2 separate regions of the Homo sapiens genome follow, and region 1 is linked to region 2. The links come from fine-mapping of genetic effects on gene expression. A gene starts in region 2. The other region holds a variant in brackets. All regions are shown on one strand. Distances are from middle to middle. Region 1 overlaps LRP2BP (LRP2 binding protein). Region 2 holds the start of UFSP2 (UFM1 specific peptidase 2).

What was found. PIP is the estimated chance that this variant, and not a neighbour inherited with it, causes the effect.
Region 1: its variant is fine-mapped to the expression of UFSP2 in whole blood (TOPMed, PIP above 0.99).

The regions. Positions count from the first base shown.
Region 1 is chr4:185,386,530-185,389,441 of GRCh38, forward strand. All of the region lies in intron 1 of LRP2BP (LRP2 binding protein), which reads right to left. Among named protein-coding and RNA genes, the nearest start is that of LRP2BP, 7.9 kb to the right of the region's middle. The variant C/T (reference allele first, on the strand shown) is at 1,614.
Region 2 is chr4:185,424,701-185,427,612 of GRCh38, forward strand. It overlaps UFSP2 (UFM1 specific peptidase 2), which reads right to left and starts at 1,264. Exons shown (of 12, transcript NM_018359.5): 1 at 1,166-1,264. The coding sequence starts at 1,168. CFAP96 (cilia and flagella associated protein 96) reads left to right here and starts at 1,554. Exons shown (of 8, transcript NM_001114357.3): 1 at 1,554-1,696. RefSeq lists enhancers at 1,028-1,137, 1,208-1,567.

The sequences.
Region 1 (2,912 bases), 38 kb before region 2:
CCAGCCTACCTCAGTGCTCTTAAGGGCATGGGGCAGGTGGATTCCAGCCATTTCTGTGCTTTGGAAAAGCTGCCTGATGGTGTTTTAGTCTTTGCACAAGCTGCATCCTCACTAGTCCTGGCCCAAACTTTTGGCTATAGGAGACAGGTACACCCCAACGTGACCCCTGGACCTTAAGAGACTACACCCTCCAGCAGTGCCTGGGACTCTTGTAAACGGAGGAGTCAGTAGAAATGTAGTTGCTTTGGACTTACTGAAAGGACTAGCTAGTGGTGACAAGCTGAGGCACCAGCACTACGAAGGCCACTGAGCTGAGGACAGAGGCAAGTGGATGCCGTGGAGACATGTACGTACATGATGTTTACTATTATATAAAAGTAAAGAAGCAAGGGGAGAAAAGACCCTATGTGTAAACACATCAAAACCATTGTGTTGGCAGGGTGCAGTGGCTCATGCCTGTAATCCCAGCACTTTGGGAGGCCAAGGTGGGCAGATCACCTGAGGTTAGGAGTTCGAGACCAGCCTGGCCAACATGGTGAAACCCCGTGTCTACTAAAAATACAAAAATTAGCTGGGCTAGTGGTGGGTGCCTGTCATCCCAGCTACTCGGGAGCCTGAGGCATGAGACGAGGGGCAGAGACTGCAGTGAGCCGAGATTGCGCCCCCGCACTGCAGCCTGGGTGACAGAGCGAGACTCAGTCTCAAACAAACCAACAAAAAACCACCGTGTGAACTGTGGATTATGTGCAGGTATATAAGGCCGTATCCGAAACCTTGGGAACAGAAATGTTTTAGAATTAAGACGTGTTTGGATTTTGGAAATGCCACACAATGTACAAATAACATATAACACATGTACACCCTACTGCAGAACCGCCTGGGCATGGTCTAGAATTGCACCCTTTTGCCATAGTTGTGTTTCTGCAGTAAAATATAACACTGTTCACACAAAATGGAATAAACACTAAATACAGTCTCAGGCGTGTGCAGCTAAGATGATCTTGCTGCCTTAAGAATTATAAACATACTGTGTTTCAGACCCTCATGTCTTTTTGAATTGCAAGTAAGAGACTGTGGACCTGCATGTTTCTCTTCTCTATTTCTCAAATTTTCTGTAATAATATTGTGGTGAGGTTACAAACATACTGCCATTGGCCACAGATGGACAGCCATAAGGCTATCTGTCCTTGCCTACAGCAGCTCCATATTCCCCACAAGGTCCCCACCCCGCTGGATAACGGGTTCTTGCAGAGGTGGGCAGCGTCTTCACACCAGAGCTCGAGAAGCCAGCCCCCAGCCCCGGGCCTTCTCCCACGTCTCCGTGCCTTGAAAGCTCTCTCCCAACTTGGGTTCTGAGGCAGGGGTGGAATGAAGGCCTCTGGATATGATTCCTCCCTCTCTAACTCCTTTTCCCCACTGTCCCGTGGAAGTGGAAAGGCTGTGTGACGAGCCCTCGACAGGAAAAGCGACGCAGTAGGCCGAGGACAGGCCGGCCCTAGGGGATGCCCCCGTGGTGTGTAGACTGCCCCTTAAGTTCACTGAATTTAAACCTAAGCTAATATTTTCAGGCCTGTGGCACAGCTAGAAACCCAGATGATGGAGGAGTTCCACGG[C/T]GTGTAAGGCAGAGATTCGGACTCAGAAATTAGGGAGGTGGCTTCTCACATCCCACATGGTAGGAGATGAAGTCTGAGGTGAGAGCAGCGCAGTGGTCTTCTGATCTGATGAGAACGTGTTAGGCTGGTTTCCTGAGGGACAAGTCCATCAAGTCTGCTGTACAAGCAACATCTCATCCTTATTCCCAATATTAATTAAACCTTTGATATAGCCATGTCCCGGGGTCTTATTTCTGCCTACCTACTAACTCAAGATCTTGGGCTCCCAGATTTCCTTTTCCTTTTACTATCTATCTACCTATCTGCCTACCTACCTACCTAACCTGCCTAACCTACCTAGCCTGCCTACCTATCAGGCCTACCTAGGCTATCTATCTACCTACCTATCTATCTATCTAGGACTTCTAGTAAACACAGGTTCGGTAAGAATAAACCTTAAGCTTTTTCTTCTTCTACCTGACAGTGTTCTCACAGCAGTTGAAAGAAAATGTTTCAAATGATAAATTATACAGAAAAATAATATTTCAATTATATATGTACATGCTGTTTCTGAAGGTATGCTATGTATTCATCTACTGTCTTTATATTGTTTAAATGAAGAAAATAGGTTGCACAACAAACATTTCCTTACAATAACTCAAATTTCTCAAAATGTGTTAACATCCTACTCAAATTAATCTTTGTTCCTAAGAGGAGAAAAAGTATAAAATGCTAATCTTACTAATAAAATAATAATAATTATTATTTTTTTTGAGACAGAGTCTTGCTCTGTCGCCAGGCTGGAGTACAGTGGTGCGATCTCGGCTCACTGCAACCTCCGCCTCCTGGATTCAAGCAATTCTCCTGCTTGAATCAGCCTCCCAAGTAGCTGGGATTACAAGTGCCTGCCACCACACCCAGCTAATTTTTGTATTTTTAGTAGAGACAGGGTTTCACCATGTTGGCCAGGATGGTCTGGATCTCCTGACCTTGTGATCCACCCCACCTTGGCCTCCCAAAGTGCTGAGATTACAGATGTGAGCCACTACACCTGGCCTTTTTTAATTTTTATTTATTTTTATTTTTATTTTATTTATTTATTTTGAGAACGGAGTCTCACACTGTTGCCCAGGCTGGAGTGCAATGGCGCAATCTTGGTTCACTGCAACCTCCACCTCCCAGGTTCACGTGATTCTCCCACCTCAGCCTCCCAAGTAGCTGGGATTGCAGGCGCACACCACCACACCCGGCTAATTTTTTTGTATTTTTTAATAGAGACGGGGTTTCACTATGTTGGCCAGACTCGTCTTGAACTCCTGA
Region 2 (2,912 bases):
TAAAAAATATTTAAAGATACTGAAGATAAAAGTTAGACAGGAAAGAACAAATTTTAACTCTGCTACTTACTGTACAATTTTACACAATTTAACTTATCACTTAAGTCTGTTTCTCTTCTGTAAAACTGGAAAAATACACAACTTCCCAGGGTTGTTATGAAGATTCCACAAGACATCATTCATAAAAGCACTAGTCTTCCTAGACTTCCGAATTAGCTGAGATACTCTCTGAAGAAATAATACTGAGGCTGAGATCTGAAGGGTGAGTGAAGGTGCAATAGCCCATTCCAGGCAGGGCCATCGATGAGTGAAGATCTGCTTAAAAGACCACTTAGGTGACTACCCCAGATGGATAGATCTCAAGGCCAAGGATGGTAAGAGTGGCGACAGTGACAACAGACAGACATTTAGAAGTAGCATCTATAGGACTTGATTATTGACTGCATGTCGGGGAGTTGAGAAGAGGGAGATGTCAAGGATGATTTCCAGGTTTTGGGCAGGCACAACAGGATGTATGGTGGTGCCATCTACAGAGTTGGGGGTTCCTGGAGGAAGAGCAGGTGTGGGCTGTGGGGAAGTGGAAATGCTCAGTTTGGAACTTGCTGAGCTTGAAATACATATGAGCTATCCAAGTGGAGGCACGGTTAGCAGATTTGTGGGTCTGGAGCTCAGAAGAAAGGTCTAACTTAGAGATAAAATTTTAGGAGAACGCATAGGGTGTAAAGCGTCCCTGAAGAGCACCACCATTTAGGATAGGGATTGGAGAACCTTGCTGAGCAATGAGACAGGAGAGAAACCAGGGGAGGGAAATACCACGGGAACTAGGGGAATATAATATCCGAAGAAAGTTGCGCCTGTCCCAGGTTAAGCCCTTCTTGCAAGGCTTCAAAAACGCCGAAGTCTCTCAAAATACTTTCACACAGAGAAGTAGCAGGGGGTGCGTGTCCAAGGTGGCCGAGGCGGGGTGCACACTTGTGTAGGGCACTTTCCCCCCGGCCCAGCGCGGAGACAGGCGAACTGGAGAGCCGCCCTGCCCACGCAGCTCGCAGCTGCCATCTTGGACCCCGGCAGGACCAGCTCCTTTCAGGCGCTGTGAAGCCCGCTCGTGGCGGCTGCCAAAGTCCGGGGAAAAACACAGGGGTCGGTGACGAGCAGAGATACTCACCATGTCCGCGACGTGGCGGTGACACGGGCGCTGACGCCTGCCCAAAAGTTCCGGGGGCCGGCCCTGAAGTGGTGTCACCGCACGGCCCAGGGGCGGGGCCCGGGCGGACCAACTACAACTCCCGACATGCTCGGCGGCATGACGTCACGGAGCGTACCACACCGCAGTCCCTCGCGGACGGCGAGGCGGGGCGGGTAGCCGAAGACTTATGTTTGGTAAATTCTATTAGTTAAGTCTTTTCTGTCCTACAGAAGCTCACACATCCTTCTGTGTGTTCTTCGATGCGGATTCGAATCTCCTCGTATCCTCCCACAGCGTGCTTGGAATGGATTCTCCCGTACCCGGGGCAACACATCACACAATAAACGCCAGCTGTGGTGGAACGTGCAGAGGCGCTGCGCAGCCCAGGCGTGTCGCGCGCTTGGGAACCCTCGCCGCTCCCGCAGCGCAGTTAACGTGGACAAGCTGGGGCAACCTGGACGAGCTGGGGCAACCTGATCTCGGCTGTCGGAGTGGGTGTCCTCAAGAAAGGTGACTTGGTCCTCGCGGACGCCAGGTGTTGCCCCTTAGATACCTGCCACCTCCCAGCCTCCGTTTCCTCTCTGGGAAACAGACTCCTCATCACCTCCTCCAGTTTTCTGCCCCTTCTTCACCTCTCCTGACGCTCCATCCGTACCTTTTGCAAGGGAACGTGCCATAATTCGGCTATGCTCTATTTTCTTGTCTAATAGATTGTAAGCTCCTTGCGGGCAGCATCTATGCCTTCTTAAATCTGTTTCTAGTTTCTACCAGCAAGCTTGCCCCGAAGGGGATTGCAGAATATCTGTTAAATAAGTGAATGAATAATTTTGTAAATGTTGCTCAATAAGAGTTAAGTAGTGGCGGGCCGGGCGCGGTGGCTGACGCCTGTAATCCCAGCACTTTGGGAGGCCAAGGCAGACGCATCACCTGCGCTCACGAGTTCGAGGCCAGCCTGGGCAAAATGGTGAAACCCCTGTCTCTACTAAAAATACCAAAAAAAAAAAAAAAAAAAAAAAAAAAAAAAAAAAATAGCCGGGCATGGTGGCGGGTGCTTGTAGTCCCAGCTACTCGGGAGGCTGAGACAGGAGAATCGCTTGAACCCGGGAGGCGGAGGCTGCAGAGAGCCAAGACAGCTCCACTGCACTCCTAGCCTGGGCAACAGAGAGAGACTCCGTCTCAAAAAAAAAAAAAAATTAATAAGAAAAAAGTTAAGTGATGGGAAAGTTCTAGGCAAGAATTTCTTCCCTCCCTCCTCCCTGGCTCGCTTGTGTGCCGGGAGCTGCGCAGATGCGGGGATACCGTGAGAGGGAGGAACCTGTCTCAGCTCCTGCCCTTGTGCCGTGGAGCTTTGAAATATAAGGTAAATGAAAGTACTAAATCTTGACTGAAGTTTGGTTTTAAAGCATCTCTGATTAATGGAAGAGGTAGGATGTGGGGAAGGGCGTTGTATTTAGTTATGTTTCAGTTTAAAATGAATCTTCACTTGCCCCTTTGGTGTTACGTATTAGCAATGATTCATGCTCAGGTGAGCCAGTTTCAGGCAGGCTTGCAGAGAGGCACTCAAACAGCTTGCTTTAAATTTAAGGTAAAAGGCCGGGCGCGGTGGCTCACGCCTGAAATCCCAGCACTTTAGGAGGCCGAGGCAGGTGAATCACTTGAGGTCAGGAGTTTGAGACCAGCCTGACCAACATGGTGAAACCCCGTTTCTACTAAAAATACAAAAATC